Homo sapiens: one gene and its partners. The protein of the gene in region 5 purifies or fractionates together with the protein of the main gene of each other region. This does not show direct contact. Each region holds a gene or a part of one and is shown on either strand. Other genes may lie near its edges. The genes, in order: IVD, LSM12, L2HGDH, ALAS1, HMGCL, ABHD10 and LYPLAL1.

The links.
Region 1: the proteins of HMGCL (region 5) and IVD purify together in Homo sapiens (affinity purification with mass spectrometry; one large-scale study listed by BioGRID and IntAct). This does not show direct contact.
Region 2: the proteins of HMGCL (region 5) and LSM12 fractionate together in Homo sapiens (co-fractionation; one large-scale study listed by BioGRID). This does not show direct contact.
Region 3: the proteins of HMGCL (region 5) and L2HGDH purify together in Homo sapiens (affinity purification with mass spectrometry; one large-scale study listed by BioGRID and IntAct). This does not show direct contact.
Region 4: the proteins of HMGCL (region 5) and ALAS1 purify together in Homo sapiens (affinity purification with mass spectrometry; 3 studies listed by BioGRID and IntAct, with this or other methods). This does not show direct contact.
Region 6: the proteins of HMGCL (region 5) and ABHD10 purify together in Homo sapiens (co-immunoprecipitation; one large-scale study listed by IntAct). This does not show direct contact.
Region 7: the proteins of HMGCL (region 5) and LYPLAL1 fractionate together in Homo sapiens (co-fractionation; one large-scale study listed by BioGRID). This does not show direct contact.

What each region holds. Positions count from the first base shown.
Region 1 is NC_000015.10:40,404,424-40,408,594, reverse strand, and holds the start of IVD (isovaleryl-CoA dehydrogenase, mitochondrial isoform 1 precursor), read right to left. Parts: upstream 2,801-4,171; 5' UTR 2,777-2,800; coding exon of another isoform or gene 2,768-2,776; coding exon 2,624-2,767; exon of another isoform or gene 2,341-2,623; coding exon of another isoform or gene 2,245-2,340; intron 960-2,244; coding exon 870-959; coding exon of another isoform or gene 783-869; intron 657-782; coding exon 605-656; intron 1-604.
Region 2 is NC_000017.11:44,056,672-44,060,171, reverse strand, and holds part of LSM12 (protein LSM12), read left to right. Parts: intron 1-3,500. UniProt on the Homo sapiens protein: Nicotinic acid adenine dinucleotide phosphate (NAADP) binding protein. Confers NAADP sensitivity to the two pore channel complex (TPCs) by acting as TPC accessory protein necessary for NAADP-evoked Ca(2+) release.
Region 3 is NC_000014.9:50,249,730-50,253,229, reverse strand, and holds part of L2HGDH (L-2-hydroxyglutarate dehydrogenase, mitochondrial isoform 1 precursor), read left to right. Parts: intron 1-3,500.
Region 4 is NC_000003.12:52,211,494-52,214,827, reverse strand, and holds the end of ALAS1 (5-aminolevulinate synthase, non-specific, mitochondrial isoform 1 precursor), read right to left. Parts: coding exon 3,277-3,334; intron 2,571-3,276; coding exon 2,408-2,570; intron 820-2,407; coding exon of another isoform or gene 809-819; coding exon 648-808; 3' UTR 501-647; downstream 1-500.
Region 5 is NC_000001.11:23,811,930-23,815,429, forward strand, and holds part of HMGCL (hydroxymethylglutaryl-CoA lyase, mitochondrial isoform 1 precursor), read right to left. Parts: intron 2,410-3,500; coding exon 2,261-2,409; intron 1-2,260. UniProt on the Homo sapiens protein: Mitochondrial 3-hydroxy-3-methylglutaryl-CoA lyase that catalyzes a cation-dependent cleavage of (S)-3-hydroxy-3-methylglutaryl-CoA into acetyl-CoA and acetoacetate, a key step in ketogenesis. Terminal step in leucine catabolism.
Region 6 is NC_000003.12:111,982,026-111,985,525, forward strand, and holds part of ABHD10 (palmitoyl-protein thioesterase ABHD10, mitochondrial isoform 1 precursor), read left to right. Parts: intron 1-3,500. UniProt on the Homo sapiens protein: Acts as an acyl-protein thioesterase that hydrolyzes fatty acids from acylated residues in proteins.
Region 7 is NC_000001.11:219,194,378-219,197,877, forward strand, and holds part of LYPLAL1 (lysophospholipase-like protein 1), read left to right. Parts: intron 1-3,500.

The DNA of each region.
Region 1 (4,171 bases), on a different chromosome or scaffold from region 5:
CCTGCTAGCTCCCTGCCTTCTCCCTCCGGACAGCCTATTAAACACATCATCTGGCCACCTCACCTGGAAGCCCAGATAGACATCTCTCTCCCCTGCCCAGCCCCTACCCTACTCCCCCCGCTATCTGCTCCCAAATGAGCTCCAAGGTTTAAGCAGAAGAGGACACAGGCAGTCCCTGCAGGGACACACCTGCCCAGAGTGTTCCTGCCGAGAGGCCACTGGTAGGACAAAGCTTATAGGGATTAGGGGAGGCAGTAAGACTGAGGTACTATGAAGACAACCACTTGATCCAGAGTTTTCTAAACTTCCCAAATCACCTGGGTGAGCCTATTAAGTATGCAGAGTTCAAGAGTTGGACTGATCCTGATCCAAGTGAGCCACAATGACCTAATTAATCCCTCTGCCTTCTCTACATCACTGTCTAATAAAATAGAAGAGTGTCCTGTTCTCTGGGCTGACAATCAATGGGTGCTTTCACAGGTCCAAAAGATGCAGTTCTGGGTTTCTTTAAGCACAATCTTTCCCTTCCCTTCCTGCTTCTTTTGGGAACTGTCTTAAAGGGCACATAAGAAAAGTTCTTTTTAGGGAAAGACACTATACTCACCAGGGGCTGTGATGCCCAATACGCCCAGGTTCCCCAGCTGCTTCCAAAATTCCTGCCAACAGAATGGAGCAGAGTGGAATAAGTGTTGAGGGGAAGGCAGCCAGTCACATGTGGCTGGAACAATGAGACCCAAACACTTCAGAGAGAGGGGCTGCATTCTTAGAGAGGCTTCATTTACCAGAAAACTGTGTGAGCTCTTCCAGGCAGCAGTGCAGCTCAGCCCCACTCCCTGACTGCCCCCGACTGCCCGGACCTCCCAACTCACTCGCAGGTTCTTGAACTCATTGCTGCGATCGATCTCCTGGGCCTTGGGGGCCAGGTGCTCCTGAAGGAACTTAGCCATGGTCTGACGAAGCTAATAGGAGAGAGGTAAACAGATGCCACTGCAGACAGCATCTCCACTACCCAGACACATTCAAGAGAAAAGGCCACAAGTAACTTCCCCAAACAGCATCAGACTGAAACTGAGAGGCCTCAGTAGTTTATGCCTCCTCAGAGATGATCTTCACCCCTCTTTCTTAAGGTCTTCAGCCTAGACAGCTTGATGGTAATTTTTAAAACGTCACACTTTACATAAAAATCATTCCATTGGTTTCCACTGTACTTAGAATAAAACACAAGCTTCTCACCCAGGCCTACTAGGCCCTGCAGGAGCTGACCCCAGCTGACTCTCCTAGCTTCCCCAGCACCTTCCCACCTCCCACCCTCTGTGCTCCAGCTGCATTCCAGGCAGCTGCCAGATCTCAATAGTTGTCAGGCTCTTTTAAGCCCCCGAACCTTTGGCTAAAAGGGTCTGATTACCCAAAGAGATTAGAAACGCCTCTTGGCGGCTGGGCATGGTGGCTCATGCCTGTAATCCCAGCACTTTGGGAGGCCGAGGCAGGAGGATCACCTGAGGTTGGGAGTTTGAGACCAGCCTGACCAACATGGAGAAACTCCGTCTCTACTAAAAACACAAAATTAGCCGGGCGTGGTGGTGCATGCCTGTAATCCCAGCTACCTGGGAGGCTGAGGCAGGAGAATCACTTGAACCCGGGAGGCGGACGTTGTGGTGAGCGGAGATCGCGCCATTACACTCCAGCCTGGGCAACAAGAGTGAAACTCCGTCTCAAAAAAAAAAAAAAAAGAAAAAAGAAAAGAAACTCCTCTTGCCAGGAAAGCTTGAGAATAGGGATTGAACCCTTTCCACTTGAGGTGGTTCACGGAAGCTCTGAGCGCTCGCTGGCTATAAACATAAACTACGGAGTTGCTGGGAGGCTCATACCTCCGCCAACTCCATCCAGCCTCCAAGTGAAACCTCAGGAAGGACTCTGGTTCTGCTCCATTTGTAAATACTACTTCGTCTTCTTTTCTATTTTTTATGAGATGGGGGTCTGGCTATGTTGCTTAGGCTGATCTCAAACCCCTGAGCTCAAACAATCCTCCCACCTCGGCCTCCCAAAGTGCTAGGATTACAGGTGTGAGCCACGGCGCCTGGCCTCCAACTACTTCTTTCAAGTACTTGTTCAACTTTTGTGTTTTGACCCAATGGGCTGAAGAGCGACAGGAGAGCTCACTGTGGCTTTTTAAAACCCCCAAACTGTTTATACAAAAAAGACTCCCTGGTGATTACGATGACCACCCAGGTGTGAGAAGCATACCTCAGCCTGTTCAGGTGTAAGTGAACTACATACAGATTGAGGGCCCTTGTGCCACAAGCGGTAGGTAGCCTGGCCAATCCTCCACCAAAACACCATCAGTCTCTCAGGAGCTCTCCCAGCCTCGACTCCTCCTCTCTACTTCCAGCAGTACTGTCCCACGGTCTCAAATCTTCACTCCACAGACGTGAGGCCGAGGTCAGAGGACTGGACCCGAGGTCGGAGGCCCCGCGTCCCGCCCCCGCGCTGGCGCTCCCAACGGCCCACGGGCAAAAGCCAAGGCTGGGTGGGCGCTGGGCCGATGGGGACCAGGCAGGAAGGAGGCCTTGGGGACCAGGCAGGAAGGAGGCCTTGGGGCCAGGAAGGGGGTCAGTCTCCTCACCTGCCTCTGCTCCTCGCTTAGCCCATTGATTGCATCGTCCACGGGCAAAAGCGAGTGGGCCCGCTGGGAAACGAAGCCGGCAAGCGGCGGCCGCAGCCTCCAGCTCGCCACACGCCACCCCAGCAGCCGAGTCGCAGTCGCCATCTCTGCCATGCACGAAGAGCCAGCGCTGAAACTGAGCCAGCTCTTAGCTCCACCAATCCAGGCTTCGCCGCCCACCAAACCGGCTAGGGGGTGGGCTGCAGCAGCCAATCACCCTAGGCGGCCCGCCGAAGGCGTTGCTGCCCTTGGACCGCACCCGAGCCAATCAACCGTGATCGCCTGCCAGCTTCCAGCCAGTGCAACGGCCGCAGGCCGAGTGGCCCTGCCCCGAACGCTGCAAATGCTGGCGTGCTCCCTAGGATGAGTGTTTTTAGCGGGGTAGAAGAGCAAGTGTTTTTTTCTTTTTATCTCCCTGCGTTGAAATAGCAGCCCCTAACTGCGGAAATCTCTCTGTGGGAAAGCAGAGTGTGGAAACAGCAATCAGAAAACTGCCCACGTACCCAGTAAATTGGTCAAGCATCTCTGGAATAATTAAGATCGGAAAAGTAGTGCTTGCTCTAACGTGCACACTGATCATAACAGAGTACATCTTGCTTTATTATATAACAAGGTTTGTAGATTTAGATTCATGTTTTATGGGAAAGGGGTTATTAAGGAGTAGCTGCCTTCTAGATTGGAGATGCGCCTCGATTTACAGTGGGGTTACTTCTCGATAAACCCATCATAAATGGAAAATATTGTAAGTCAAAAATGCACTTTGAAAATACACTTAGGCCGGGCATGATGGCTCACACCTGTAATCCCAGCACTTTGGGAGGCCGAGGCGGGTGAGTCACCTGAGGCGGAGAGTTTTAGACCAGCCTGGCCAACATGGAGAAATCCTGTCTCTACTACAAATACAAAAATTAGCTGGGCGTGGTGGTGCATGCCTGTAATCCCAGCTACTCAGGAGGTTGAGGCAGGAGAATCGCTTGAACCCGGGAGGTGGAGGTTGCGGTGAGCTGAGATCACGCCATTGCACTCCAGCCTGGGCAACAAGAGTGACACTCCGTCTCAAAACAGAAAACAAAAAAACACCTAACCTACCAAACATCATAGCTTAGACTAGTGGACCTTAAACGTACTTGGAACACTTATAATAGCTTATAACGGCACAATCATGTAACACAAAGCATATTTTATAAGACAGTGTTAGATATCATTTATTGAATATTGTACAGTTTCTATTCAATGTCTATCACTTTCACACCATCATAAAGTTGAAAAATCTTAAGTTGAACTATTGTAAGTTGGGGACCATTTGTATTTAATATGTGTTAAATATTAAATAGTACATATTTACGTATTATACTATATATTAAATAAGATGTATTAAATAGGCTGGGCATGGTTGCTCATGCCTGTAATCCTAGGACTTTGGGAGCTTAGGTGGGAAGATCGCTCGAGGCCAGGAGTCCAAGACCATCCTGTGCAACATAGGGAGACCCTGTCTCCACAAAAAATTTG
Region 2 (3,500 bases), on a different chromosome or scaffold from region 5:
ATTTTTTGAGACGAAGTCTTGCTCTGTCGCCCAGGCTGGAGTGCAGTGGCGCCATCTCGGCTCACTGCAAGCTCCACCTCCCGGGTTCATGCCATTCTCCTGCCTCAGCCTCCCGAGTAGCTGGGACTACAGGCGCCCGCCACCATGTCCGGCTAATTTTTTTGTATTTTTAGTAGAGACGGGGTTTCACCATGTTGGCCAGGATGGTCTCGATCTCCTGACCTTGTGATCCGCCCGCCTCGGCCTCCCAAAGTGCTGGGATTACAGGCTTGAGCCACCACACCCGGCCTACTCTAACTTTAGTCAAAGGTATCATCACATATTGGCCCATCTTGCTGACATAGTAAGTGATCTGCTTAATTAAACCTGTTGATAAAAACCGGATATTTGTTGACTCTGACCTAGCAGGAAATGGAAGAGAAGGGCTTATACAGGAAATACTTAATAATAGCTCAACTAGGGAAGGTATAAACTAGCAACTTCTTGGAAATTGGCCTGTTTTGCTTTCGAATGATAGTTCACTTCAGGCTAAGAAGTCTTATTTCTATCTCCAGCAGTAGCATGTAAGAGGAAGCTTGAGAGAGGACAGTAGGGTTGCAGTAGGGGGAATTCTTTTTTTTGAGACAGGGTCTCAGTCCATTGCCCGGTGTGATCTCGGTTCAAGCGATTCTCCTGTCTCAGCCTCCTGAGTAGCTGGGATTACAGGCGCCTGCTGCCACCATGCCCGGCTAATTTTTCTATTTTTAGTAGAGATGGGGTTTTGCCGTGTTGACCAGGCTGGCCTTGAACTCCTGACCTCAGATAATCCACCTGCGTCGGCCTCCTAAAGTGTTAGGATTATAGGCGTGAGCCACTGCACCTGGCCAAGTCCCCTGTTTTTCTATTACTTTGTGTTTAGCCCAAGGAACTCATAGTTTGGCAACATGAAGTACCCTGAATAATGTACAATGCTAAGTTATGTTTCGTGTGTGTGTGTATGTGTGTGTGTGTGTTCTGTTTTTTAGAGATATAGTCTCATTCTGTTGACCAGGCTAGAGTGCAGTGGCATGATCATAACTCACTGCAGCTTCGAACTCCTGGCTCATAGCCTCAAGTGATCCGCCCAAGCTTCCTGAGTAGCTGGGACTACAATCTCCCATCACCACACCTGGGTGGTTGTTTTGTTTCTTTTTAGTTAGTCTCGCACTGTGCCCAGGCTGGAGTGCAAATGATGCAGTCACAGCTCACCGCAGCCTCGACCTCCAGGGTTCGCTCAAGTGATCTTTCCACCTCGCCTCCCAAGTAGCTGGGACTACCGGCACAAACCACCACACCTGGCTAATTTTTCTTTCTTTTTTGAGATGGAGTCTTGCCCTGTTGCCCAGGCTGGAGTGCGGTGGTGCCGTGATCTCGGCTCACTGCAACCTCTGCCTCCTAGGTTCAAGCAATTCTCCTGCCTCAGCCTCCTAAGTAGCTGGGATTACAGGCGTGCGCCACCATGCCTGGCTAATTTTTTGTATCTTTAGTAGAGATGGGGTTTCACCATGTTGACCAGGCTGATCTCGAACTCCTGACCTCATGATCCACCCGCCTTGGCCTCCCAAAGTGCTGGGTTTACAGGCGTGAGCCACCGCGCCCAGCCTAGTTTTTTTTTGTAGAGACAGGGTCTTACTGTGTGGCCCAGGATGGTCTGTAACTCCTGGGCTCAAGCAATCCTCCTTCCTCGGCTTCCCAAAGTATTCGAATTACAGGTATGAGCCACTGGCCCAGCCCCTAGGTAACGTTTCTAAGTAAAGAAAAACATCTATGTTCTGTGGTCAGGGGCAGGGTAGTCTAGTAGAAAAGACTTAGGAATGAACCAAGTAGATCAGTCTTTAAAGTCATTAGACTTGGCAGATGTTAGTTAATGTCTCCCAAATTATTATTATTATTATTATTATTTATTATTTTTTTTTTGAGACGGAGTCTTGCTCAGTCGCCCAGGCTGGAGTGCAGTGGCGCGATCTCGGCTCACTGCAAGCTCCGCCTCCTGGGTTCACGCCATTCTCCTGCCTCAGCCTCCCGAGTAGCTGGGACTACAGGCGCCCACCACCACGCCCAGCTAATTTTTTTGTATTTTTAGTAGAGACAGGGTTTCCCCGTGTTAGCTAGGATGGTCTCAATCTCCTGACCTCATGATCCCCCCATCTCAGCCTCCCAAAGTGCTGGGATTACAGGCGTGAGCCACTGTGCCCGGCCCAGATTTTTTTATTGTAGCTAACTAATGCTCATTGAATTATGGGATGAGATAAGGCAGGGGAAGGAGGGCATTGTGACAAAGGGCCCATAGAAGATTTATGCCATTACACTAGGCTCTCACTTAACGTCTTTGGTAGGTTCTTGGAAACTTTGACTTTATGTATTATTATTATTATTATTACTTTGTTTTTTTTTTGAGACAGAGTCTCCGTCTGTCTCCCAGGCTATAATGCAGTAGTGCTGTCTCAGCTCACTGCAACCTCTGCCTCCCAGGTTCAAGCAGTTCTCTACCTCAGCCTCCGGAGTAGCTGGGATTCCAGGCATCTGCCACCACAGCTGGCTAATTTTTGTATTTTTGGTAGAGACAGGGTTTCACCATCTTGGCCAGGGTGGTCTTGAACTCCTGACCTCATGATCCGCCCACCTCCGCCTCCCAAAGTGCTGGGATTACAGGCGTGAGCCACTGTACCTGGCACATTATTATTTATTTTTTTAAGATGAAGTCTCACCCAGGCACGGTGGCTCACGCCTGTAGTCCTAGCACTTTGAGAGGCCGAGGCGGGCGGATCACGAGGTCAGGAGATCAAGACCATCCTGGCTAACATGGTGAAACCCCGTCTCTACTAAAAACGCAAAAATTAGCTGGGCGTGGTGGCATGTGCCTGTAGTCCCAGCTACTTGGGAGGCTGAGGCAGGAGAATGGTGTGAACCCAGGAGGCGGAGCTTGCAGTGAGCTGAGATCGCGCCACTGCACTCCAGCCTGGGAGACAGAGCGAGACTCCGTCTCAAAAAAAAAAGAAAAAAAAAGTCTTACTCTGTTGCCCAGGCTGGAGTGCCATGGCTCTATCTCAGCTCACTGCAACCTCCGCCTCCTGTGCTAAAGCAGTTCTCCTGTCTCAGCCTCCCGAGTAGCTGGGAGTACAGGTGCGCCCCACCACGTCCGTCTTATTTTTTTATGTTTTTGAGACAGAGTTTCACTCTTGCTGCCCAAGCTGGAGTGCAATGGCACGATTACAGCTTACCACAACCTCTGCCTCCCGGGTTCAAGTGATTCTCCTGCCTCAGCCTCCCAAGTAGCTGGGATTACAGGCATGTGCCACCCCACCTGGCTAATTTTGTATTATTAGTAGAGAGGGTTTCTCCATGTTGGTCAGACTGTTCTTGAACTCCCGACCTCAGGTGATTTGCCTCGGCCTCCCAAAGTGCTGGGATTACAGGTGTGAGCCACTGTACCAGGCTGTATTTTTTTTTTTTCTTTTTTTGGAGAGGAGTTTTCCTTTGTC
Region 3 (3,500 bases), on a different chromosome or scaffold from region 5:
TGATTGTTTCCTTTGCTGTGCAAAAGCTTTTTAACTTGATGTGATCCCATTCTGGATCATATTGTTTAATTTCTATGTGTTTATATAATTTCCAAAATTCCTCTTGTGATTGATTTGTAGTTTTATTCCATTGTGGTCAGAGAAGATGCTTGATATTATTCCAAATTTTTTGAATGTTTTAAGACTTGTTTTGTGATCTAACATATGGTCTATCCCTGAGAATGATCCATGTGCTGAGGAGAAAAATGTGTATTCTGCAGCCATTGGATGAAATGTTCTGTAAATAACTATTAGGTCTATTTGTTCTGTAGTGCAGATTAAGTCTGACATTTCTTTGTCGAGGTTCTGCCTGGGAGATCTATCCAATACTGAAAGTGGGGTGTTTAAGTCTCCAGCTATTATTATATTGGGGTCTATCTCTTTAGCTCTAATAATATTTGCTTTGTATAGCTGGGTACTCCAGTGTTGGGTGCATATATATTTACAATCATTATGTCCTCTTGCTGAATTGACTCCTTTATCATTATATAATAATCTTCTTTGTCTCTTCTTACAGTTTTTGTCTTGCAGTCTATTTTGTCTGATATCAATATAGCTATTCTAGCTATTCCTGCTCTTTTTTCATTTCCATTGTCATGGAATATCTTTTTCCATCCCTTTATTTTTAGTCTCTTTGTATCTTTATAGGTGAAGTAAGTTTCTTTTAGGCAACAGATCATTGGGTCTTGTTTTTTCATCCATTCAGCTACTCTATGTCTTTTTGACTGCAGACTTTAGTCTATTTACATTCAGTGTTATTATTGATAAGTAAGGACTTACTCCTGCCATTTTGTTATTTGTTTTCTGGTGGCTTTACAGTCTTCAATTCCTTCTTTGCTTTCTTCCTATCTTCCTTTTAATGAAGGTGATTTTTCTCTGATGGTATGTTTTAATTTCTTTCTTTTTGTTTAATTTTTTGATATCCATTGTATGTTTTTCTATTTTACCATGAGGCTTGCAAATACTATCTTATAACCCACTATTTTAAACTGATGACAATACTGATTGCATATGCAAACAAACACACAGAAAGAAAACTAATAAAAACTCTACACTTTAACTTTGTTCCTTGGCTTTTAATTTTTTTTTTTTCTCTTTATATCTTATTGTACTGTCTGTGTCTTGAAAAGTTGTTGTAGTTACTATTTTTGATTGGTTCATCATTTAATCTTTCTATGTAAGATGAGAAGTTTATACACCACAATTATAGTGTTATACTATTCTGTGTTTTTTATGTGTGCTTGCTGTTATCAGGAAGTTTTGTACCTTTATATGATTTCTTCTTGCTCATTAACATCCTTTTCTTTCAGATTGAAGAACTCTCTTTAGTATTTCTTGTAGGACATATCTAGTGTTGATGAAATCCCTCAACTTTGTCTGGGAAAGTATTTCTCCTTCATGCTTGAAGGATATTTTCACTGGATATACTATTTTAGAGTAAAAGGGTTTTTTCCTTCAGCACTTTAAATATGTCATGCCACTCCCTCCTGGCCTGTAAGGTTTCCACTGAAAAGTCTGCTGCCAGACATATTGGAGCACCATTGTATATTATTTGTTTCTTTTTTCTTGCTGCTTTTAGAATTCTTTCTTTATCCTTGACCTTTGGGAGTTTGATTATTAAATGGCTTGAGTTAGTCTCTGGATTAAATGCTGTTGGGGTTCTATAATCTTCTTGTACTCAAATGTTGATATCTTTCTCTAGGTTTGGGAAGTTCTCTGTTATCATCCCTTTGAATAAACTATTTACCCCTATATGTTTCTGTACCTCCTCTTTTAGGCCAATAACTCTTAGATTTACCCTTTTGAGAATGTTTTCTAGATTTTGTGGGCATGCTTCATTGTTTTTTATTCTTTTTTCTTTTGTCTCATCTGACTATGTATTTTCAAATAGCCTGTCTTTCAGCTCACAAACTCTTCTGCCTGATCAGTTCTGCTATTGAGACTCTGATATATTCTTCAGCATGTCAGTTGCATTTTTCATTTCTAGAATTTCTGTTTAATTCTTTTTAATTATTTCAATCCCTTTGTTAAATTTATCTGAAAGAATTGTGAATTCTTTCTGTGTTGTCTTGAATTTCTTTGAGTTTCTTCAAAACAGCTATTTTGAATTCTCTGTCAGAAAGGTCGTATATCTCTGTTTCTCCAGGATTGGTCTCTGGTGCTTTATTTAGTTTATTTGAGGAGGTTATGTATTCCTGGATGGTGTTGATGCTAGTAGATGTTCTTTGGTGTCTGGGCATTGAAGAGTTGGGTACTTATTGTAGTCTTCACAGTCTGAGCTTGTTTGTGCCTGTCCTTCTTGGGAAGGCTTTCCAGGTATTCAAAGGGACTTGGGTAACAAGCCCAATAACATTGTGTCTTTTGTAGACTTGTAGAGGTACCACCTAAGTGGTCTTGGATAAGATCCAGAAGAATTCTCTGGATCACCAGGCAGAGACTCTTGTTCTTTTCCCTTACTTCCTCCCAAATAAATGGAGTCTCTTTCTGTCTGTGCTAAACCCCCTGGAACTGGGGGGTGTGGTGATGCAAGCACTCCTGTGGCCACCACCACTGGGACTGCACTGGGTCAGACCTGAAGCCAGCCCAGCACTGGGTCTTGCCCAGGGCCCTTCCCTTCAGGGCAGTAAGCTTCCTCAGGCCCCAGGCGTGTCCAGAGATGCTGTCTGGAAGCCACAGATTGGGGTCAAATACTTTAGTAGTTTACCTGATGTTCTGTTCTACTGCGGATAACTAGCACTCACACTACAATACAAAGTTCTTCTCACTCTTCCCTCCCCTTTCCACAGGCAGAGGGGCCACTCCCTGTGGCTACCACCACCTTTGGTCCACAGGGTTTCTGCCAGGCCACCACCAATATTCACTTAAAGCCCAAGGGCTCTTCCATCAGCTTGTGGTGAAAGCTGCCTGGCCTGGGACTTACCCTTCAGGGCAGTGGGCTCCCCTCTGGCCCAGGGTAGTGCTAGAAATGCCGTCCAAGAGTGTTGGCCTGGGCCAGACACGGTGGCTCATGCCTGTAATCCCAACACTTTGGAAGGCCAAGACGGGTGGATCACCTGAGGTCAGGAGTTCGAGACCAGCCTGGCCACCATGGCGAAACCCCATCTCTACTAAAAATACAAAAATCAGCTGGGCGTGGTGGAGTGCACCTGTAATCCCAGCTACTTGGAAGGCTGAGGCAGGAGAATCGCTTGAGCCCAGGAGGTGGAGGTTGCAGTGAGCCGAGGTCACGCCACTTCACTCCAGCCTGGGCAACAGAGCGAGACTCTGTCTCACAAAAAAAAAAAAAAAAAAAAAAAAAAAAAAAAAAAGGAGTGTAAGCCTTGACTTGGGGACCCCAAGAACCTGCTTGTTGCTCTACCTCACTGTGGCTGAGCTGGTACCTAAGGTGTAAGACAAAGTCCCCTTTACTTTTATCTCTGCTTTTCTCAAACAGAAGGAGTCTTTCACTGTAGCCACCACAG
Region 4 (3,334 bases), on a different chromosome or scaffold from region 5:
AAAGTCAGGGGGAGGCAGCTGTAGCAGGACTGCTGGGCAGCACTGACTGTCCATTGAAGATGTGAAGTGAGAAGTTTAAAGTGAAACCGGCCGCCAAGGTGGTGTCACTCTTTCAAAACTGTTCAGTTGCCGGGTGCGGCTGGGTCAGCCACTGGATACAGTAGGCATTAAGGAGGTAGCAGGGCTCAAGCAGTGGGAGGTTCTGCTGCTCCTCCTCTGAAGCCATTACCAGAGCTCCAGTACTTCATTCAGTTTATTCATTCCTAGAATACAGACTGAACTTAAAGGGATGATGACAATTATTATTTTTTATTTCAGAGGCAGTCTTGCTCTGTCACCCAGGCCGGAGTGCAGTGGAGCAATCATGGCTCACTGCAGCTTCAAACTCCTGGCCTAAAGTGATCCTCTTGCTTTGGCCTCCCAAGTGTTGTGATTACAGGTGTTAGCCACTGTGTCTAGCCAATGAAGAATGTTATCCAGTAGCCAATAGCAGAAAGAACCACCATTTAAGCAAGAATTTATTTCCAGGACTATGTTTTTACTATAGATTAAAATTTAATATAACTTAATTCACATATAAAGACAACTCTGAAGACCATCTGGATATGATAATGGCCTGGGGTTAAGTGAAATAATTGAGGTCATGCTCAGGCCTGAGCAGATACCAACTTGCTCAAGCCTGAGAAATAGGACTTCTCTCTTTCACTCATCACTTCAAAATGCAGTGGCCTCCTGCAGAAGTTGCACTCAGCTGAGGAATGAGGCTTCAGTTCCAGCCCCACTTGCTTCCATGTGACTAGCAGATTCTCTGAGGAGAAACAGTTTTTAAATATTAAAGGGAGTAATATACACAAGAGAAATGAAAACATATGTCCACACAAAAACTTGTACACAAATGTTCATAGCAGCATTATTCATAATAGTTAACAAGAGAAACAACCAAATGTCCACCAATAGACGGATAAACAAAATGTGGTAAATCTGTACAATGGAAGGTTATTTGGTAACAGAAAGAAATGAAGTGCTGATGAATGCTACAGCATGGATGAGCCTTGCAGACATGATGCTGGAAGAAGGCAGACACAAAGGAGCACAGGCGGTATGATTCCACTTAGACACAAGGTCCAGAAAAGGCAAATCCATAGAGACAGAAAGAGCCGTGGTTGACAGGGGCTGGGGATGGGGAAAAGAGGAGTGACTCCTAATGGGTAGGGGCTTCTGAGGTGATGAAAATGTTCTAGAATCAGATAGAAGTGATGGTTGCATAACACTGGGAGTGTACTTAAAAATCATAGACTTGGATACTTTAAAAGGGTGAATTTTATGGTAAGTGAGCTATATCTCTACTGAGATAAGGCTTTTATAAAAATTTTAAGGCTTTTATAAAAATAAATAAAGAGAAAAATAAAACCCAGAGTTGGGCTTGATTTCACAGGCCTGTAGGGAAGAAGCTGCTCCAACACTGCCACGTGACAGTTTAAACCCAGCATTTCCAACAGAACAGAGAGCCTGTGAGGAAGCTGAGCCACGCTGGGCGGGCTTGGGAAGGCAATGTACCTTCGAGGCAGAGGTGACCTGTGGCTAATAGCCCCCTTCCATCTCTGCCTTTAGGTTGGACATGGGTGGAGCAGTATAGAACCACGGGGCAGTTGAAAATATTGAGCAATTCCTCTTATCAGAGGCGATTAGGTGTGGGGTTATTCAAGGATTATACAACATCATGGAGTAGAGGGCAGTGGTGAAGACAAATGTGAGGTGGACTCCGGAGGGACAGCGGGGACTCAAGCCTTCAGAGGCCTCTTCTCCCTGCAAGTCATTACTGTGCATCCTTCAGCCACGTAGACAAGGGGGCACTGGAAACACTGAGCGGATTCCCAGGCTCCCTCAGAGCTCCCAAAATGACTCTCCACCCTCTTGATGTGAATCAGACAATAAATACCTTTTAGGGTTTTGAACCATTTGAGGGCATGCTTAGTTACTTGGAAAAAGAAGAAACAGGCCGGGCACCAGGGCTCACACCTGTAATCCCAGCACTTTGGAAGGCTGAGGTGGGTGGATCACCTGAGGTCGGGAGTTCGAGACCAGCCTGACCAACATGGAGAAACCCCATCTCTACTAAAAATACAAAATCAGCCAGGCGTGGTGGCGCATGGCTGTAATCCCAGCTACTCAGGAAGCTGAGGCAGGAGAATCGCTTGAACCTGGGAGGCAGGGGTTGCGGTGAGCCGAGATTGTGCCATTGTACTCCAGCCTGGGCAACAAGAGCGAAACTCTTGTCTCAAAAAAAAAACTAAAAAAAGAAGAAGAAACAAATCTGAATGCCTCTGAAGGGCTTCAATTATAAACACTGCAAAGACAGCTTTATGCAACTCCTCAGTGAGGCACCAGCAGCTCCCCAGGTACTCACCAAGGAAGTAGTTCATCATCTGGGGTGTGTGGTGAGGGGTGGGGGCAATCCGTAGGAGCTCTTCTCCCCGGGGCACCGTAGGGTAATTGATTGCTTGCACGTAGATGTTATGTCTGCTCATTAGTTCATCACAGACTTCTGTGTTTTTAGCAGCATCTGCAACCTAAGTTCAATGAGAGCAGAAGGTAAGGTCACAACAGGAAGGACTACCTCTTAGCAGAGATCCTAACGAACGCAGTCCCCACAACGCTCAGGCTCAAGACCAGACTGTAGCAACACATGCAAGCTTGGGGCAGAGGGAAAGCGCTGCCCAAACACCTGTCATTTAAAAGAAGCCAGTGTTGTTTCGTGAACACCAGGGAACCAAAACCTTATTAAAAAGAAATACATTTTTAATCAGAAAACACTGGTTCTGTTCGTACCAGCAGACTCTCATACCCACGATGTATAATCTAGATTCAGTTATACTAGCTGTATTCATTACACTAATTCAACTGTGACATCAACAGTGCTACCATTTGTAGTGGGAAGGGCAAAACCTATTTTGAAATTTACTAAGTAGAAAGCCATACTTCAAAGCTGGCCAAGCTCAGGCTTCTGGAGCTTTCTAGATACAAGCTCTGTGTTTACCCTGTTAAGGTCAGTGCTCCGGAGAGGGAACTTCTGCCCCAGCCTGCTGGGTTCAAAGGCTTTCTTCTCTTGGTGAAGTCAGCCAATGGCGGAAACATGACAGAGGGTGGCTGGCTACAACCCCTGCCCTGGCAGTCACCCCGCTCAAGCCCAACTTCAGGAAGGTATGAAGCAGAACATCCGTACATCATGTGTAGAGGCACACCCCACGGCAAGTCCAATCAGAGACAGGCCATTACCCGCACAGGGATGATGTGGCTGGGGCAGTGGACAACAGGGAGGCCGGCATCCATTAGC
Region 5 (3,500 bases):
TGATGCTCCCACTTATTCTCCAACCACTGCTGAGCAAGAAAAAGGTAAGAGAGATGCTTAGAAAGACACAGATCTGGGAGTTGGGCCAATGTTACTGGAGCACCTGCTTCCCCATTCATCCACCTGCCCGTCAGTGACTGAGTGCCCACTGTGGCTAGGCCCCAAGCTGGGAGAGTGGAGCACCCCAGGGACTGGGAGAGATGTGGGCTTTGCCCTCATGGAGTGCACGGTCTAGTGGGGTGGGGCAGGGAGGGAATTTAACAAGCAGCTAAGTGCTACATTTAGAGGATGTCCCGACACCATGGGGTCCCAGAGAAGGGCACTAACTCCAGCTGAAGGACTGGAGCAGCTTCTCAGAGGAACTGACTCCCACAAGAAGACCTGAAGGATGAGCAGGAGTTATCCCCGAGAAGCATGATGTGGAGGAAGTGTTCTTTATTTTTTGGAGACAGAGTCTTACTCTTTCACCCATGCTGGTGTGCAGTGGCATGATTTTGGCTCACTTCAGCTTGGACCTCCCAGGCTCAGGTGATCTTCCCACCTTAGCCTCCTGAGTAGCTGGGACTACAGGCACATGCAACCACACCTGGCTTTTTTTTTGTAGAGCTGGGGTTTCACCATGTTGCCCAGGCCCAAGCCAGTCACAAACTCCTGGGCTGAAGCAACCTGCCCACCTTGGCCTCCCAAGGAAGGTTGTTCTGAGTCTAGAGAGAGCACGTGCAAAGGCCCAGAGGCAAGAGTGGAGGCATGTGACAAACAGAAAGAAGTTCCAGTTGGGCTGGAGTGTACCATGAAGAGGAAGCAGGGGCCAGAAGGGAACTTGAACGGTACGGCTACAGAAAAGAGCCGGGACCAAATCATGCAGGGTTTGTAAACCTCATTAAAAAGTCTGCACTTGATTAGTCACTGAAAGCTTTTTAACCAGGAGGGATGTGATCAGATGTGCACTTTTGTGGGGTTTTTTTGGTTTTTGTTTTTGAGACAGAGTCTCACTCTGTCACCTAGGCTGGAGTGCAGTGGCGTGATCTTGGCTCACTGCAACCTCTGCCTCCTGGGTTCAAGTGATTCTCCCGCCTCAGCCTCCTGAGTAGCTGGGATTACAGGTGCATGCCACTACGCCCGGCTAATTTTTGTATTTTTAGTAGAGATGGGGTTTCCCCATGTTGGCCAGGCTGGTTTCAAACTCCTTACCTCAGGTGATCTGCCCGCCTCGGCCTCCCAAAGTGCTGGGATTACAGGCATGAGCCACCATGTTCAGCCCAGATGTGCACTTTTCAACGATCATTCTGGCTGCAATGTTTTTTTTTTTTTTTTTTTTTTTTTGAGATGGAGTTTTGCTCTGTCACCCAGGCCGGAGTACAGTGGTGTGATCTCGGCTCACCACAACCTCCGCCTCCCAGATTCAAGTGATTCTCCTGCCTCAGCCTCCCAAGTAGATGGAATTACAGCTAATTTTTGTATTTTTAGTAAAGACGGGGTTTCTATCCACTACCACGCCCAGCTAATTTTTGTATTTTTAGTAGAGATGGGGTTTCACCATGTCGGCCAGGCTGGTCTTGAACTCTTGACCTCAGGTGATCCACCTGCCTTGTCCTCCCAAAGTGCTGGGATTACAGGTGTGAGCCACCATGCCCGGCCTCTGGCTGCAATTTGCACAGCAGTGTGACCTTACAGTAGAGTATTCGCCCTTCCTGGGCCTCGGTTTTGTAATTTATAAAGTGAGGATAACCTACTCCCTGCTGGGCTATTGTGAGGTTTCAATTATTATAGATAATACACACACAATGCCTGGAACCACTGATATTAGAGATGTGATGTTGGAAACATAGAAGCCTAGGTAATTCTCCAGGGATGTGTGAAGAGCTAGTGATAAAGCCAGGACTCAACTGACCTCCACAAACCCGTTAGTGTCCTGTCCTGCTAGATTCCTTTAGCATGATAGCAGTGGTGCTATCATGGCTCACTGCAGCCTCAAACTCCTGGTCTCAAGCCATCCTCTGCCTCAGTCTCCCAAGTTGCTAGGACTACAGGCGCATGCTATCATGGCTAGCTGGTAAACTGACCCAAAATTCAGGTTTGAGAGAAAGTACTTCCTAGGATTTCTTCTGACCACACTTATTTGGGAAAAGATGTCTAGGTGTGGAGCTCAGGCTGCCCCCACCCAGGATAAGAAGTTTGTGGCAGGAGGACCACTTGAGTCAGAGTCTAGCCCCATTCCAGAACGGTACAGAGGAAAGGATACCAATGTGCTCTGACTCACCCCCGCACAGAAATATTGGCTGACTGCGCTGCCTTCAGGATTGCGTCAAACCTCTGAAAACTCTCCTCTATGGAACAATTGATGTTCTTCTTGGTGAAGAGCTCTGAGGCAGCTCCAAAGATGACTACTTCCTTGGCTCCAGCAGCAACCTGCCAACATCCAGGTGAACTCCTTTCAGCACTTTTCTCTTTTTTTGTTTGAGATGGAGTCTTGCTTTGTTGCCCAGGCTGGAGTGCAGTGGCATGATCTCGGCTCACTGCAACCTCCACCTCCTGGGTTCAAGCGATTCTCCTGCCTCAGCCTCCTGAGTAGCTGGGATTACAGGAGCCCACCACCACGCCCGGCTAATTTTTGTATTTTTAGTAGAGACAGCGTTTCACCATGTTGGTCAGGCTGGTTTCGAACTCCTGACCTTGTGATCCACCCACCTCAGCCTCCCAAAGTGCTGAGATTACAGGTGTCAGCCATCATGCCCGGCCAGCACTTTTCTCTTTAAAGAACACTGACACAGAGTAGCAAAAAATTTCTCTTAAGGTAAATTTTATGTTATGTGAATGTTATGGGTTGAATTGTGTCCTCCTAAAAATATATGTTGAAGGATTAAAACCCAGCACCTCAGAATGTGACCTTATTTGGAAACAGCGTCATTGCAGATATCATTAGTTAAGATGAAGCCATACTGGAATAGGGTGGGCCCCTAATCCCATACGACTGGTGACCTTAAAAAAAGATGGCCAGCCGGGCGCAGTGGCTCACGCTTGTAATCACAGCACTTTGGGAGGCCGAGGCGGGCAGATCATGAGGTCAGGAGATCGAGACCATCCTGGCTAACACAGTGAAACCCCATCTCTACTAAAAATACAAAAAATTAGCCGGTCGTGGTGGCACACGCCTGTAGTCCCAGCTACTCGGGAGGCTGAGGTGGGAGAATCACTTGAACCTGGGAGGTGGAGCTTGCAGTGAGCCGAGATCATGCCACTGTACTCCAGCCTGGGCGACAGAGCAAGACTCTGTCTAAAAAAAACAAAAACAAAAGATGGCCAAGTGAAGACACAGAGACACAGAAAAGGTGGCCCTGGGAAAACGGAGGCAAAGACTGGAGAGATGCATCTACAAGCCAGGCAATGCCAAGGACTGCTGGCCACCACCAGACCCCAGCAGAGAGGCATAGGACAGATTCTCCCAGAGGCCTCAGAAGGAACCAATCCTGCTGACACCTTGATTTGGGACTTCTGGCCTC
Region 6 (3,500 bases), on a different chromosome or scaffold from region 5:
ACTTCTGTTCTAATCAGTTGAAGTAAATGCCAGCATTTTTATACATTATTTTAATGGTCTGTAAACTTGCATCTTGTGATTTAGGGTAATTTTAAAAGCAACCTTTAAAAGACCTTTTTTAAAGGCCTTTGTGCCACGCTGACAACCCTGGCAGAAAAGGACATCTTAAGGGAAATATTGGTAACTAAGCTCTTTAGAGGCAATAATGTATGTGACAACAAACAGATATACTAGTTGGCTTTCATACAGTCTCTTATATTATCATTTTCCACTGGGGACTTAAGGACTTTATTTGATCACTGTTTATCTAAAAGTAATACATGTATTTAAAAGTATCATAATGCAAATTTCTGCTGAGTTTTCTCTTCCCTCTCCTGTAATCTGAATATGTATAAGCATAAATAGGGATAAGTGGTACTTAACTCAAGCTTGATTTTATAATTCCTAATTTTTCACACTGAGAGTTATTTTAGTAAATAACTTTATGTTATTATAAGGTCTACCTGTAGCAGTTATATGTTTAGTATCCACTGTCCAGAAGAGATGGTATGATTTCGTAAAAAGAAGATTAGCCTGGAATTCAAGAAACATGAGTTCTAGAATAAATTCGAGCAATAACTATGACAAGACAAGTAAGTTAATAAACATTGGACCTAAGTTTGTCATCAAAAGAAGGAGGTTGGACTAGAGATAACTTCTGAGTTATTTTCTAGCACTAACAGCCTAAAAATCTATCCATCTAAATTTTTAGAAGAGTGACTCACAAACATTCATTCAATAATTCTAGAAAATACAGCTGTATATAAAACTTTCAGACTACCTGTTCAATATATTAGCAGCAATTATGTCAATTATAAAATTAAATAAGATTTAATCTTATTTCTTTTACCAAACTAATGAATTATTTTATTTTCATACTCAGAACTATGTTAAAATCTGTTCTGACTTATTCTGAAGATTGGAGTACTTTTTGGAAATAGATTCTCTAGCACTATACTGAGTGCTGCATAATAACAAAGAATTATAAAACATTGTACTTGCCTATGAGGACCTTTCATTCAGGGTGGGGAAACACAAGATAAAATACATGTTAGAAATTTGGCAGAAATACTCATCAGAATGTGATTGTGTCAAAAGAACAGTATACTTAATTGCATAAAGTTAGAGACAGTGGGATTGAAATAGATAAAGGAACGTTGAAGAATAATTCAGATTTGGGTGGGAGGGAAGTGCTGTCCAAGGAGGGGGACTGTCCTGAGCAGAAGATCATAATATCAAAAATATTGTTATCACTTTTCTTTTTTGCCACTGAATAAATTTGAATCGAGAAATCACCATTTTACCAGTTCTAAAATTTCAGCTTTGAGACTATGAGAGTTATAACCAGTTCCTGTCTCCCTATAAGACATAATGTGGCTTTTCTGCATTTTTGGATCCTGTGTGAGTATACCTTCATAAAGAATAGTGCTTAACTACAAATATTTAGTTTGAACAAGTTCCATTTTATTTGCTCTTATCAAAGTTCATCACAGTCTAATTATTGTTAACTATTGATTGCACTTTATTATAAGAGATTTTATCTTCTATTCTCTAATTTTTCAGGTTGCTTTTGTTGGGATTTTTTGCTGTAAAATTTAGATCTTCAATGATGAAATAGTTTATTACACAAGAAATAAAACATATGACTATATGAAAATGTTTTATTAAGGTCCTATCACCATGCCTAAAATAAGACTGATTCAGATCTCAGGAATATAACATATGGTTTTAAGGCTGGTATTCTCTCATAATTATTTGTAATAGAATTTTTATTTGGGACTACATCCCAGACTATTGAGGCTGCTAAGATGGAGATGTGCTACTGTTTAAAAGTTTTAAAGTGCTGAATATGTTTGGATTATCTTTGTCTCTGGATTGGGGTTCAGTGAGAGTTAACTATATTTTTTTAATGGTACCCTGTTAGTATCACCAAGTATTTATATTTTCCTTCATGAAGGAGCTGTACAAGTATTTTGCATCCTCACCATATATTTGGAAGGCAGCTAACTGTAAAAGATGCCACATTCAGCCATATCCAATTGCCACCTATGAAGAGAGAAAAGGAGAAAATTAGTTGGTGTCTTTCCCCCTTTTTTCTTCCACCCCTTCTACCCATCTCTTACATACCCTGGATTGAGGGGGAAACAGTAACTGATTTAGACTGCACCAGTTGCCCTGTTCTATTTCCCAAGGATCCAAAATCGTTTCACTTCAAACCTAAAGAAAAATTTAATTTCTTCTCTCCCCTATTTCTCATAAATCCCTTACTTACTGTACCAGCCATTCCACCAAAAAGGTTCATTTGAACTAGGCTCTGGGAAAGGATATCAGTAAAGAAGGGAAAATATATCAGTAAAGAAGATGATGGAAGAAGGTATTCCAGGTAAAGGAATCAACAGTGTGAGATGTGAAACACATAAGAAAACATAGACCTATTTTAGGAACAGTAAGTTCATCAATTTGTCTAAAGCAGTAGTATTCCCTGATGAAGTGAGTACTACTGTAAAATTTAGTAGTAAAAAAAAATTTACTGTAAAATTTATTGTGAAATCAATCTGAAATGACCAGAATATAATGGTTCAAAAAAACAGGCCAAAGCACTAAGTGTTTATGTTGTATATCACAGGGAGCACTGAAGGTAATGCTAAAATGTTAAAGAAAAAAACTGACATGTATATAGTGACTCTATTTAAAGACAGAGTCATAGAGACACAAGATAGAAGGCTACTGTGATAGTCTAGGTCTAAGATGACAAATAAACACCTACACCAAGATACTGGACTTACCAAAGTACCAAGAAAGGGATGAACATAAGAAGAAATGAGAAAGAATGGTGATGGTATAGGGCAGGCAGTATTCTGTGGCCTGGAAAAACAAACGAATAAAACAGCCTCCTCTTAAGGAACTGACATTCTAGTCAGAGGGAGATGAATGTTTAAAAACAAACTTGATTACAATACAATATGAAAAGTGTTGAGTACATACAAAAGAAAGTGACTGGTACTAAATGGGGCATATATGTCAAGTGAAGTTCCTCAGAGGAGGTGACATGACTTAAAGGGTGACTACGAATTTGGGTTGGGGAGGAAGCTGTTCTTGGCAGCAGAACAGCATGCTAAGGCTCTAAGTTATAAAAGGGTGTAACTGGGAATTAGGAGTAGTTCAGTATGACTAGAGTTTAGGTAACCTGTGGGTGTGGTATGATACTTTATACCACCATGATTTTTTATTGATTTGATACCCTTAAGGAGAGGTAAAATTCATAGATCAGACAGATAACTGAGCCTAGATAACTAGGAAGTTGGAAGGAGAAAGGGATGGGTTGGTGATGATGAATTTTATTCTGGTCTCCTTCCCTTCCATCAATTCACTAAATATACACTAAGCACCTACCACTCGCAAGGAACTGAACTAGGCACTAGGAACGCATTGAAACAAAGCTTGTGCCCATGTGGAACTTT
Region 7 (3,500 bases), about 200 Mb from region 5:
ATCATTCAGTCATCATTCAATCTTTAGCAAGTATTTTTTAAGTCCCCACTATGTGCTACGCATTATTATAGATGTTCACGGGGATGTGCAGATAAGTAAAGCAAGATCTATCTGCCTTACATATTTCTTACAACCTGAAAGGGCCAATGAGATTCTTAAAGTGGTAACTATAATGCCAGCCAGGCTGTGATGAGTGCTCTAATGTGGTATAACTAATAGCTTTTCAAAGCCAATGATAGTATATATTTCTTTTTATTTCCCAGAACCTATCACAATGCCTGGCACAGAGCAAATACTCAGGAAATCTATAACAAATAACATTACCCAATCAATAAATTGTCAGTACTGTAGGAATTGAGAGGAAGAAGTAGTCACATGCATTTGGGGCTGTAAGAGAAAGATTTAATAGAAAGATGGCAGTGGCATTTAAGATGCACAAATTATTAAAATTTTAACTATTACAGTGTAGAAGTCTAGGTAGAGGGAATGATTTGTACAGTAAAGTAGAAGTGGACAGAGTAATGCTTTTTGTTTTTGTCTGTCTGGACAGTAGTTGGCTGTAACAAAGTTTGTGTCTAACTAAAAAGTACCTGTTGACTCAGATAGCCACAGTAAGAGACTAGAACGTGATGGCATAATGGTGACAAAAATGAGTTCAAATCTACAGTCCACCACTTCCTAGTTGGCTCACCACTTATTACCTACACTTAATTTTTGCTACCTAATCTGTAAAGTGGAAATAATAATATAATATCTGTTTACTGAGAGATGAACAAACTATTTGGTTTCTTCCAGACTCTCAGTAAATACTCTGTTCAGTTTTTAATCCTTTATTTTGTAGGTATAATAACATGTAATAATTGGTAAAGGATCATTAAATAATGTCTTCAAGTCATAAGAATTGTACTTTGAAAAACTAATTTGGCAGAAGGGGTAAGTAAAAGGATGAGAAGTCTGACATGGAGAAACCAGTATAATATAATGAAAGTCTGAAGTGGTGTGGTGGCAATAGGAAAAGAAAAGATCAGGATGAGAAATTGCTTTAAAAAATAAAAGTACATTCTTCATAAGCAAAAAAATAGATAAAAGGAGAAAATACTCTGAGTAGTACTCTTAATGAGTGTGTATTGAAGAGTTTATCACACTGAATGGTAACTGCTGTCCATTTGTCTCTTGCCCCATCCTCTCTCTTCCTTTCCCAGATCCATTACTTTATCTAGTTCATCTTTGAGTACTAGAGATATTATGGATTTTCTGCAGTATATTACATTTTAAAGAATCCTAGTACAACAAAATCAAATCTTTTAAAAATTTTAATTTTATTTTAAGTTCCAGGATACATGTGCAGGACATGCAGGTTTGTTACATAGGTAAACATGTGTCATGGTGTTTTGCTATACCTATTAACCTATCACCTAGGTATTAAGACCTGTATTCATTAGCTGTTTATCCTGATGCTCTCCCTCTCACCGCCTCCCTGACAGGCCCCAGTGTGTGTTATTTGCCTCTCTGTGTCCATGTGTTCTCATGGTTCAGCTTCCAACATGCAGTGTTTGGTTTTCTGTTCCTGTGTTAGTTTGCTGAGGATAATGGCTTCCAGCTCCATCCTTGTCCCTGCAAAAGACATGATCTTGTTCCTTTTTATGGCTGCATAGTATTCTATGGTGTACATGTACCACATTTTCTTTACCCAGTCTGTCATTGATGGGCGTTTGGATTGATTCATGTCTGCTATTGTGAATACTGCTGCAGTGGACATATGTGTGCATGTATCTTTATAATAGAATGATTTATATTCCTTTGGGTGTATACCCAGTAATGAAATTGCTGGGTCAGATGGTATTTCCGGTTCTAGGTCTTTGAGGAATTGCCACACTGTCTTCCACAATCCTTGAACTAATTAACATTTTCATCAACAGTGTAAAAGTGTTCCTGTTTCTCCACAGCCTTGCCAGCATATTAAAAATTCAAAATTCAAAAATTCTTGAATTTTTAATAATTGCCACTCAGACTGGTATGAAATGGCATCTCATTGTGATTTTGATTTGCAGCTCTCTAATGATAAGTGATGTTGAGCTTTTTTTCATGTTTTTTGGCTGCATAAGTGTATTCTTTTGAGAAATGTCTGAAGAGTCATTTATGACAAACCCACAGCCAGTATCATACTGAATGGACAAAAGCTGTAACCATTCCCCTTGAAATCCAGCTCAAGACAAAGATGCTCTCTCTCACCACTTCTATTCAACATAGTATTGGGAGTTCTGGCTGGGGCAATCAGGCAAGAAAAAGAAATAAAAAGTGTGTTCAAATAGGAAGAGAAGAAGTCAAACTGTGTCTATTTGCAAATGACATGATCCAATATCTAGAAAACTCTATCGTTTCAGCCCCAAAGCTTCTTAAGTGGATAAGCAACTTAAGGAAAGTCTCAGGATACAAAATCAATATGTAGAAATCACAAGCATTCCTATACACCAACAGTAGGCAAGCAGAGAGCTAAATCATGAATGAACTCCCATGCACAATTGCTACAAAGAGAATAAAATACTTAGGAATACAAAGGACTTCCTCAAGGAGAACTACAAACCACTGCTCAAGGAAATAAGAGAGGACATAAACAAATGGAGAAACATTCTATGCTCATGGATAGGAAGAATCAATATCATGAAAATGGCCATACTACCCGAAGTAATTTATAGATTCAATGCTATGCCCATTAAACTACCATTGACATTCTTCACAGAATTAGAAAAAACTACTTTAAAATTGGAACCAAAAAAGAGCCCATATAGCCAAGATAGTCCTAAGCAAAAAGGACAAAGGTGGAGGCATCATGCTACCCAACTTCAAACTATACTACAAGGCTACAGTAACCAAACAGCATGGCACTGGTACAAAAACAGACACATAGACCAATGGAACAGAATAGAGATCTCAGAAATAAGACCTCACATCTACAACCATCTGATCTTCAACAAATCTGACAAAAACAAACAGTGGGGAAAGGATTCCCTATTTAATAAATGGTGCTGAGTAAACTGGCTAGCCATATGCAGAAAATTGAAACTGGACCCCTTACTTACACCTTATACAAAAACTAACTCAAGATGGATTAAAGACTGAAATGTAAAACCAAAAATTATAAAAACCCTAGAAGTAAATCTAGGCAATACCATTCACAACATAGACATGGGCAAAGATTTTATGATGAAAATTTCAAAAGCAATAGCAACAAAAGCAGAAGTTGACAGATGGTATCTAATAAACTAAAGCACTTCTGCACAGCAAAAGAAGCTGTCATCAGAGTGAACAGACAGCCTACAGAATGGGAGAAAATTTTTGCGATCTATCCATCTGACCAAGGTCTAATATCCAGAATCTACAAGGAACTTAAACAAATTTACAAGAAAAAGAAAACCCCATTAAAAGGTGGGCAAAGTACATGAACAGATGCTTCTCAAAGCAGAAACAAATCTTAAATGAAGTTAAACACACATATAAAA